2 separate regions of the Homo sapiens genome follow, and region 1 is linked to region 2. The links come from fine-mapping of genetic effects on gene expression. A gene starts in region 2. The other region holds a variant in brackets. All regions are shown on one strand. Distances are from middle to middle. Region 1 overlaps ZSWIM5 (zinc finger SWIM-type containing 5). Region 2 holds the start of ZSWIM5 (zinc finger SWIM-type containing 5).

Region 1 (5,379 bases), 32 kb before region 2:
GGTTAAAGGCAATATTATAATAACTGAAGAACGCAGAACCAAATTAGCAGTGCAGATATATTCTTAGTGAAGTGAACTGAAAAGAACAAAATATTTTTAAAAATATTTTACTACGTAAAAAAGCTGAAAAAGTGCTAATTTATATTTTTGAACTGTTTTATTTTGCAACATGATAATGAATGGCTGTTGTAATTGGTAGTTCTGCAGCAAACAAGCTACATAAGACCTTAGACAAGACAATAACATCAACAATACAGAGCTTTATATTTTAATAGGTGCCTCAGATACACTACCTCTTGCAGCTGAACTCTTTGGGGAAAAATATCCTCCCCCAAAAGGAACTACAAAGATTGCTATATATCTTTTTCTCCCACAGCATGTCCTTGTAGTCTTATCTGGACCTACAGGATCACAGTTTAGAGCAGTTAAACAAAGGAATCATATATTTAGTTTATAATTATTATGCAAATCATTCTTAAAATCACTCTTCAGAATGTTGTGCCTCTTTTCTTCCTTTGTTAAAACTTACTGCTGCTAGGCATTGTGCTCATGCCTATAATCCCAATGCTTTCGGAAGCCAAGGTGGGAAGATTGCTTAAGACCAGGAATTCGAGACCAGCCTGGGAAACACAGTGAGACCCAGTCTCTACAAAAAATAAAAAAAATTAGCCGGGCATGGTGGTGTGTGCCTGTGGTCCCAACTTCTTGGGAGGCTGAGGCAGGAGGATTGCTTAAGCCCAAGAGTTCAAGGCTGCAGTACACTATGATCATACCACTGTACTCCAGCCTGGGTGACATAGCAAGACCTTGTCTCAAAAATTATAATCATCACCAATTTAAACAATTTGGTACTACTAGAGGAAACGTTACTTTTGCATGAATACATAATAGGTCCACAACATATGAACTGAATATATTAGTCTCAATAACGGAGCTACTGCTCTGGTACAGCACCAACTAAATAATTTCTCTTTAAGTCTGTACATTAAAAGTGTGATATTACATAAAAGGCAAGAATGGATGTTACTAAGGCAATAAATATTAGTGTCACACACCAAATACAAAACCTATGTCTGAATTTTCTTATAGACAGAAAAGGAAACAATTTCAGTATATAATTCCTAAATTTAACTGAGTTTTTTTCATTCTTTTCAATCTCTATAGGACTTAAGTTATCCATGCATTTTTCACTGTGCATAACTGAACAGTGATTAAGATTTTGAACACAGGAGCCGGGCTCTAACCCCAGCTGCCCCACATAACTATATAAATTTGGACTAGTTTCTTATCAGGGCCTCATTTCCTCATATGTAAAATTGGGATAATAATAGTACATACCTCAAAAGAATATTATATGGATTACATAAATTATAACATGTTAAATATTTGGCAAAGCGCCCAGCACTTTGTGTTAGCTTTTAATATTGTTATTATTGTTATGCAAATAAAAAGTGAAACTATATTAAGTGGCAATATTTACACAGCTTTAAAAGACTGTAAATTTATATAACCAATAAAGACATAATTGCTTAAAAAACTTTAGCTTATAATCTGAGTAGGAACCAAATATCATTTAAAATGAAATTAGATGAGTTACGTATGTTTGTACTGATTATAATTTAACCTTTAAAATGAACATGAAGGCTGGGTGCAGTGGCTCACGACTGTAATGCCAGCACTTTGGGAGGCCAAGGTGGGTGGATCACTTGAGGTCAGGAATTTGAGACCAGCCTGGCCAACAAGGTAAAACCCCATTTCTACAAAAAATATAAAAATTAGCCAAGTATGGTGTCATACACCTGTATTCCCAGCTACTCAGGAGGCTGAGGCAGGAGAATTGCTTGAACCCGGAGACAGAGGTTGCAGTGAGCCAAGATCAGGCCACTGCATTCCAGCCTGGGTGAGAAAGCGAGACCTTGTCTCAAAAAAACAAAACAAAATATGAAATAAAACTAAAACATTCAAAAGTGATCTTTTAATAAAAATAATTGGAGATTTTTAATGTAAGCTAAGAAAAACATATTCTCTTAAACAATTCAAAATAAATAGGTAATTGGAGGAGTACTCACTATTAATCAAAGTTCATTCAAGTTCATTATCAGCTCAGTGAGGTGGCTCACACCTGTAATCCCAGGACTTTGGGAAGCCGAGGTGGGCGGATCACTTTAGGCCAGGAGTTTGAGACCTGCCTGGCCAACATGGTGAAACCCCAACTCTAC[T/TA]AAAAAAAAAAAAAAAAAAATTAGCTGGGCATGACACACCCAATACAAAATACTCTCCTACTCGGGGAGCTGGGACAGGAGAATTGCTTGAACCTGCAAGGTGGAGTTTGCAGTGAGCTGAGATCGCGCCACTGCACTACAGCCTGGGCCACAGAGCAAGATTCTGTCTCAAAAAAAAGAAAAAGATTATCATATTTATCCCTTTTTATTTTGAAACAATCTCAAACTTACAGAAAAGTTGCAAGTACAGTTCAAATAATTTTTAAATGAGTTATTGGAGAGTAAGTTGTCAACGTACTGCCTTATCACCCCAGAATACTTTTTTTGTGTATTTCCTTCAAAGATATTCTCCTACAGAACTATAAAAATCATGAAAATCAGAAATCAATACCATAACATTATCATATAATGCACAGGCCCCATTCAACTGTTGCCAATTGCCCCAAAAATGTCCCCATAAGGATCCAGTCCAAAGTCATACAATGCATTTAGTTTTTATGTCTCCTTATTCTCCTTCAATCTGGAACCACCTGTAGTCTTAACTTTCTGACTTCTGATACTTACGAAGACTTCAGGCTAGCTATTTTGAAGAATGTCCCTCAGTAGTGCCTGTTATTTCATCATGATTAGATTCAGGTTATCTATCTTTGGCAGTAATATCATAGAAGTGGAGCCATGTTCTTATTGTTTCCTATCAAATGGCACACAATTTTGATTTCTCCCATCACTGGTGAGGTTAACTTTGCTCATTTGATCACAGTAGTGTTTGCCTGGATTCCTCACTTTAAAGTTACCTTTTTCCCCTTATAATTAAAGTATCTCATGGGAACCATATTGACATTATGCCAATATACTCATCAAATTTTCAACTTACTCTTTCTAAAAATATTTTATTTTGGAGACAGGGTTTCATTCTGTCGCCCAAGCTGCAGTGCAGTGGAGCAATCCCAGCTCACTGCAGCCTTAACCTTCTGGGCCCAAGCGATCCTCCCACCTCAGCCTCCTAAAGTAGCTGAGACCACAGGCATGCACCACCATGCCCGGCTAATTTTTTAAAATTTTTGTAGAGACGGTGTTTTGCCATGTTGCCCAGGCTGGTCTCAAACTCCTGGGCTCATGTGATCTTCCCTCCTCAGCCTCCCGAAGTGCTGGGATTATAGGCATGAACCATGGCACCTGGCCTTTAAAAAAAAAAAACCATTGACACAATGAACTCATGGGTTTCTATTTCATTCAATGGGTTGGTTATATCCATTATTATCATTATTTTGACACTCAATTCATCCCATATTTGGCTAATGGGAATCTCTTCAAAGCTGGCTTTTGTATCCTTTTTGATGTGTTGCTATAATTCTTTAAGAACCTCCCTGCTTTCTGGCACAAGAACATGTTCAAGGCTCATTTGATACTTTCTCTGCCTCACCCCTAAATTCAGCCATTTCTCCAAGGAGGCTTTGTTCCTTTTATCGGAGAAAAGTACTTGGAAACCAAGATATGGGCATTAGGTGTGCTTATTGCTATTGGGATATTACTGCTCTAAGGCCCTCTCAGTTAACTGAATGCCATATATATATATAATATATATTATATATATATTCCAATATATACTAAAAACCATGAGTTCACGTGGGTATCTCCAATTACAATCCAAAACCCAGAGTTCATTCACCTTTTCTCCCTGGTCTTTATCTTTTCTTATCTTATTTTATTTTTCAGACGGAGTCTTGCTTGTTGCCCAGGCTGGAGTGCTATGGCACAATCTTGGCTCACTGCCACCCCCACCTCCTGGGTTCAAGCGATTCTCCTGCCTCAGTCTCCTGAGTAGCTGAGACTACAGGTGCATGCCACCACACCGAGCTAATTTTTCTATTTTTTAGTAGAGACGGGGTTTCGTCATGTTGGCCAGGCTGGTCTTGAACTCATGACCTCAGGTGATCCACCCGCCTTGGCCTCCCAAAGTGTTGGGATTACAGGCATGAGCCACCGCGCCCGGCCTGGTCTACATTTTAGCTACTTTTTCTGATAGTGAGAAATTTGGCTCCTGTTATCCTTAATTGATTTACTTAGTTGATCAATATCTATAAATAACCAATCTTTCATTGCCACCACAGCTCCTCCCTGCCAATAAGGACATTCTTCTCACTGTGCTCAAGCTCAAAAAACCTGCACCTACTGCTGCCACCCCCTGCTATGCCCACTTCACCCCATCTGAACACTAACACCCTATGGCTCTACACTCCCCTTCACCCCTATACAAAAGTCATCCTCAACCCTTTCAGACTCTGACATCTCAAATTATATCCCCCTTCATGTGGATACCCTCCTCACCCCACTTTGGCTCTAGCACCCCATGCTAGGCCACTGCTCCAGTTGGGCTCCAATATACCCTTTCAGGCCACTGCTACTATCCCTTCTTCCCATCTCACTTCCTTTTCTCTTGCTTCTCCCAGGTTTGGACTAAAGTTTTCAGGAAGGGAAGTCAGAAGAAAAGGGAATGATTAAGGATTCAGGAACTAGAGAGAGGAGGGAAGAGAAGAGCAGTATCATTGTATGACACCTCATAATTAGCTATTTTGCTATACAGTGATTATGTTTCTAAAACGTATGCAGAAAATAAGGAATAAACACTAAAGAAAATAATAGGAAAGAAGAAAAGAATATGACACTGAAAAAGAAAAAAATTTCTTAAATGTACTGAATGCTTGTTCTTATTTATTTTACACTTCCAATCATTAAGAGTTGTTATAGACTCTAACAAGGCTATGAACTATGGCCAACCCCCTTTTCCACATTGGAACTGAAAAACCTACACCATATACACAGGGAATTTAAGGTACTTAAGTTTGCAGGTTATACAGAGTGGTAACAGCAATAGAGCAATTTCTACAATTCCTACAACCCAAACTGTGAAATCAATAATGGTGAAAGTTACAGAGGGGTATGCAAAATATACCTTTAATAGCAAAATATTTCCCAGGTCTGAATCTCATGAAATGAAAGATGGGCATAAAAGGGGATTCTCTCTGCTGCTTTATAAGACAATTCGGGGAGATTGAGCAATCAGTTGCTACTTGATACCAAGCAGTAACCAGCTCTATGACACATCCTTATGTTGCCTTACCCTCCTTCCCTGTCTCATTTCATTTTCTCTCACTCTTGC
Region 2 (5,379 bases):
ATCAATGATTCTCAATAACCAGAAGCAGATTACTTTATATGAAACAGCACGATTCAAAGAAAAACATTTTTCAAATGTTTTCTCCAGGTTTTACCTGGAGAGCTAGATGTCTGGGGTTTGTGTCTTTCTGTGCTTGTTTAATTCTAAAAACAACCTCCCTTCAACTCCTTTCAAAAATCAGTATTTTCTTCAATTAATACGAGCATATAGTGTACAATAAAACGCATAAAGATATGTACTTCCAGAATGCCATAATAATCCAAATAGAAAAAAATTCGTGTTTTAATTTTCCACATAGCAAAGTCAATGTTAATCATTTTTTTATCCTTCTCCTTAACCATTCCACAAATCAGAAGCACTGTATTTATATATTTAATAAGATTAACAAACTGACTAGAAGCTCCGGAGGAGTAAAGGAAGAAATCATTTGTATAATATATTTTTCCATAACAAAAAGATAAAAGCAAATAGGACTTGTTAAATGAGAAGCTTTTGAAAAACCCAGCGTGACCAGCTTTTGATTTACCCCAGTCTGACAAGGAAGAGAGACCCCACCCCCACTCCAGATTGTATGGCTTTTTTTTTTTTTTTCCTTGGGTGGGGGTGTGGAGGAGAAGCTGTCACATTTCCATCTTCGGTTATTGTTAGTCCGCAGCCTAGATTCCCAAGCATCACCGGTCCAGGGGAAAAATCCTAACGCAGACAATTAAAACTGTCTGAAACATGCAGTATTTTGTTGGGGCTTTTTTCCCAGTGTTAATTTCATCGAGACTCAATCGGCTAGGGCTATAGATTGCCTCTGACAGTCTGTCCCTCAAACGCTCCCTCTAAAACCGCTTGTTCCAGATTTACTAACAATCCTCTCCTCTCCAAACTTAAATTAGGACAACACATTTCTGAAATTATTACATCCAAAAAGTCATACCTCCCCATTCTCTTTGCCTTGGTGTGGGGAATAGAAAGAGTGAAGAAGAGAGATCTATTCACTCTTCAAACAAAAAGAAATTGGGGTAGAGGGTCAGTGGAGGAAAGAGCAGTGGTGGACCTGAGTGAAAGGTTGAAAAAAGTTTTTGTGACTTGTTCGTCCTTCGGCAGGGGTACAGGAGTTGGGCAGAAGGCCGGGGTCTCGGCCCCAGGGCTCGGGCCGAGAAGAGGCACCCGCGGAAGAGGAGGCTGAGGACCCGAGAACGCCTGGACGAGCACATACCGACTTGCAGCACGTTCTCCACGGAGCCGCTGTCCAGCAGACGGATGCCCCGGCGGAACGGGAGCCCCTCGCCACCGCAGCCGGCCGCGCCGGCCCCTGCGCCCAGCCCGGGGGATGCCCCAGCCGCGACGCCCCCGGGGGCGGAGCCGGCCGGAGCGGCGGCCCCGGGGGGTGGCTGCGGCCCCTCCTCGGCCGGCGAAGCCCCCGCGGCGCCGCCAGCAGCGCCGGCGCCGGGGCCGCCCCGGTACTGGAAGCTGGAGTACATGCAGATCTCCCGCTCATTCCGCGGGAAGGACCAGTAGACGATGCGGCGCTGCACGGGCTCCGGGATCCGCTCGAAGCGCTCCTCCACCCGTTCGTATGCCCACTTTTCCGCCACCGTCTTGGCGGCGCAGTCCAGTAAGGAATCCGGCTGCAGGTGGGGGCGGGCCCCGAGGACCAGGCAGCTGCTGCCGACGCCCCCTGCCCCTCCGCCGGCTGCCCCAGGCGAACCGCGAGGGTGATGAGCCTGCGGGCTGGGCCACGAACACTGCCGCTTAGCCGGAGAGACCGGTGACGGCGAGAGCAGCTCCTCTCGCTCACCTCCGTCCGCCATTGCTGGGGACTGACTGACTGACTGAGGCGGCGGCGGCTGCTCGGGCTGCGGCGGAGACCCTGGCCACGGCCACGCGCCCCGCGCAAGCGCCCAGCGGTGGCGCCGAGGGGGGCGGGGCGAGAGAACCCGCGAGCCAGCCGGCCCGAGTGGGGAACCGCGGCCGGGCCCGGGAGCGCGCCGCGAGGGCAGACGCGGGCGGCCTGCAGGGTAGCGTGAGGCGGCGCGCGGTGTCCTGGCCGCCGCGGACGCGAAGACAGGCGGGAGCGAGCGCGGGCCCGCGGCGCGCTCCAGGCGCAAACAGCCTAGAACGCGAGCCGAGCGCTCTCGCGGATCCGGCGACCGCGGAGGGGAGAGGAGCGCCGGACGCTCTCGCACGCCCGCCCGCCCGCCCGCGCACCTCCAACCCACCTGCCGCCGGCCAGACAGGAATGGACTGTGTGACTGAATGAAATGGCGGGGCCATAAGCCATCCAAGGAGCCGCCTCCGTGAAGTTATAGGCTCGCGGGGTACAAGGAGAAAAAAACAATCCAGCTCCAACGGTACTGATGTGACAGGAGGTTGTCACAGCAGAGCGGAAGATCTGGCAGAAAGACGCTGGGAAAGAAGACACTAGGGGAAAACATCAGAAAGTTCGGATGATGAAAACTCACCTCACGCCACAACAATGTAGGATAAAGCCGGCGGTCACCCCACCCCAGAGTGGGACAAAGTCGCACCACCCCTTGACAATGGGGCATCAAGATCTTATCGCCACGGGGGTTGCATCCTGGTGGGGTCTTTTGGAGGGTTTAGCACCTTGCATCCTAGAATACAAAACACTTTTGCGTGTTTTTTGGTAGAATTCTCTGATCCCCTACCTCCAATCTGAATTAGGTCTTTCATGTTTTCCTCACTTGGCTCAGTCTTCTACACCTTTACATAGTTGTATTTTTATATATTTGTTTAATGTCTGACTGTCAACTCCATGAGAGTGAGAATCATGTCTATTTCCTTCACTATAATTTATCCTCTGCCTGGCACATAGTGGGTGCTCAAGAATGGCAGCTTCATCACTAACTCCATAAACAACACGCAATTGTAAGTTACTGTTTCTTGCTCGATCAAGAAAGCTCAGATTATTTCAGAATTTGCTGACAAACTAATCTCTACAACTTTAAAACGTTCCAAGAACTGTATTAAAAGAGTTTCTATAGTTGAGTTTGCCCTTCAAAGTAAGAGAGATTTAGAGTGTAGGATAAAATAAGAGTAAGAAGAGAGTAAATGATTGGAGACAGGCTGGAGCCACAGTTTGGTTTTGCTGTAATCTCAGAATTAAAGAGCACAGGCAGAATTGGGTGTGAATCACACTTGCTGTGTGTGATGCTATTCATGATTCTATTAAATCATTTGCAAAAGGGAGCTAGTAATAATGCTTCTACACATAAATGTTGTAAGAATTAGAAATAATTCACTTTAAAAAAAGTTTTTTTAGAGACAGGATCTCACTCTGATGTCCAGCCCGGAGTGCAGTGGGGTGATCACTGCAACCTCAAACTCTTGGACTCAAACTATCCTTCCATCTCAGCCTCCAGAATAACTAGGACAACAGATGCACAGCACCACACCCAGCTAATTCTAAATTTTTGTAGAGGGGCGGTCTCCCTATGTTGCCCAGGCTGGCTGGAATTAGAAGTAATTCAAATTGTTTGCTTATTCAGTGTAGTAGGTACTCAATAAGTATCTGTTTAGGCCAGATGCAGTGGCGCATGCCTGTAATCCCAAGGCTTTGGGAGGCCAAAGTGGAGGATCCCTTGAGGCCAGGAGTTCTAGACCAGCCTGGGCAACAGAGCAGACTGGAGACCCCATCTCTACACAAGAAATAAAAAATAGCAGGGATTAGTGGCCTACACCCTGTAGTCCTAGCTACCCTGAAGGCTGATGTAGGAGGATTGATTGAGCCCAGGAGTTCAAGGTTACAGTAAGCTATGATCATGCCACTGCACTCTAGCCCAGGCAACAGAGCAAGACCCTCTCTAAAAAAACAAAAAAAGAAAGAAAAAGAAATCTGTTTATATTGGTAAATGGATTTATATCTGTAAATAACTATAAATAGATTACTGCAAAATAGCATAATCCCTACTCCACCTTGAATCTGGTACCACATTTACAGGCTTCCATAACACACACTATTTTCTTTCCTATAATTTATCAGAGTTTTTTGGGAGAACGAATATTCCTTTAATGCCTGTCCCCCTAACTAGACTATGAGCTGTGGAAGGGCAGGAACCATTTCCATGTAAGGGCCTATTTCTACCACCTGCCAAAATGCCTACACATAGAAGATGTTCAGAAAATATTTGCACTTTGAATCAATGAATATGTTATTCTGATTTAATCAGTTACTGTCTTTTTTTTTTTTTTTTTTTTTTTTGAGATGCAGTCTCACTCTGTCACACCCAGGTTGGAGTGCAGTGGCACAATCTTGGCTCACTGCAACTTCCGCCTCCTGGGTTCAAGTGATTCTCTTGCCTCAGCCTCCCAAGTAGCTGGGTCTACAGGCGTGTATGCCACCATGCCCAGCTAATTTTTGTATTTTTAGTAGAGATGGGGTTTTACCACATTGACCAGGCTGGTCTCAAACTCCGGCTTCAAGTGATCTGCCCGCTTCAGCCTCCCAAAGTGCTGGGATTACAAGTGTGAGCCATGGCGCCTAGCCTATATTTATGTGTTTATTTGCTTAATGTCTGTTTCCCAAAATAGACTATAAGCTCCATGTTAGGCGGGCGTGGTGGCTCACACCTGTAATTCCAACACTTTGGGAGGCTGAGGTGGGTGGATCACTTGAGGCCAGGAGTTCGAGACAAGCCTGGTCAACATGGTGAAACTCCACCTCTACCAAAAATACAAAAATTAGCTGGGCATGATGGTGGGCATCTGTAATCCCAGCTACTCGGGAGGCTGAGGCAGGAGAATTGCTTGAACCTAGGAGGCGGAGTTGCACTGAGCCGAGATTATACCACTGCCAGCCTGGGAGACAGAGTGAGACTGTGTCTCAAAAACATAAATAAAAAATAAAAAATAAGCACATAAATATATAAATACAGATGGTAATAACACAGCAAATAAGACATTTGGGAATATGCAATATGTGGTTGTGAATAACAAGAATGCTAGATTAATTGGACCATAAGTTTGTGGTGAGAAATAGTGGGAAAAGACTGCAAGAGAGACAGGAGACATTGTGAAAAGCTTTTAAAAGCATTGTAAAATGCTAACTTGAGGAATCTGCATTTTCTTAGGTTGGTGGAGGGAAGCTAATAAAGGTATTTTGAGCAGGACAGTTATATGATAAAAGGCAGTGTTTTAGGAATATTAACCAGACAGAAATATGTAGGATGAATCAGGAGAAAGATAAAGTCTGGAGGCAAAAGATGAGTTTGGAGATAAACCAACAGTGTGGGAAGGAGGTAATAAAGGCTTGTAGAAGGCATTGGACGAAAAGATATCTAGACATCGGGCAAAAAGGGGCTGAAATCTGGCCTGCACTCCATTTGCCCATCCCTGCACCAACCAGGTTGCATCTGGGTGCCTCTTTCT

The links.
Region 1: its variant is fine-mapped to the expression of ZSWIM5 in whole blood (INTERVAL, PIP 0.97).

What each region holds. Positions count from the first base shown.
Region 1 is chr1:45,172,351-45,177,729 of GRCh38, forward strand. All of the region lies in intron 1 of ZSWIM5 (zinc finger SWIM-type containing 5), which reads right to left. Among named protein-coding and RNA genes, the nearest start is that of ZSWIM5, 32 kb to the right of the region's middle. The variant T/TA (reference allele first, on the strand shown) is at 2,220.
Region 2 is chr1:45,204,549-45,209,927 of GRCh38, forward strand. It overlaps ZSWIM5 (zinc finger SWIM-type containing 5), which reads right to left and starts at 2,057. Exons shown (of 14, transcript NM_020883.2): 1 at 1,208-2,057. The coding sequence starts at 1,802. RefSeq lists enhancers at 635-1,535, 1,536-2,435 and silencers at 1,504-1,663, 1,864-2,283.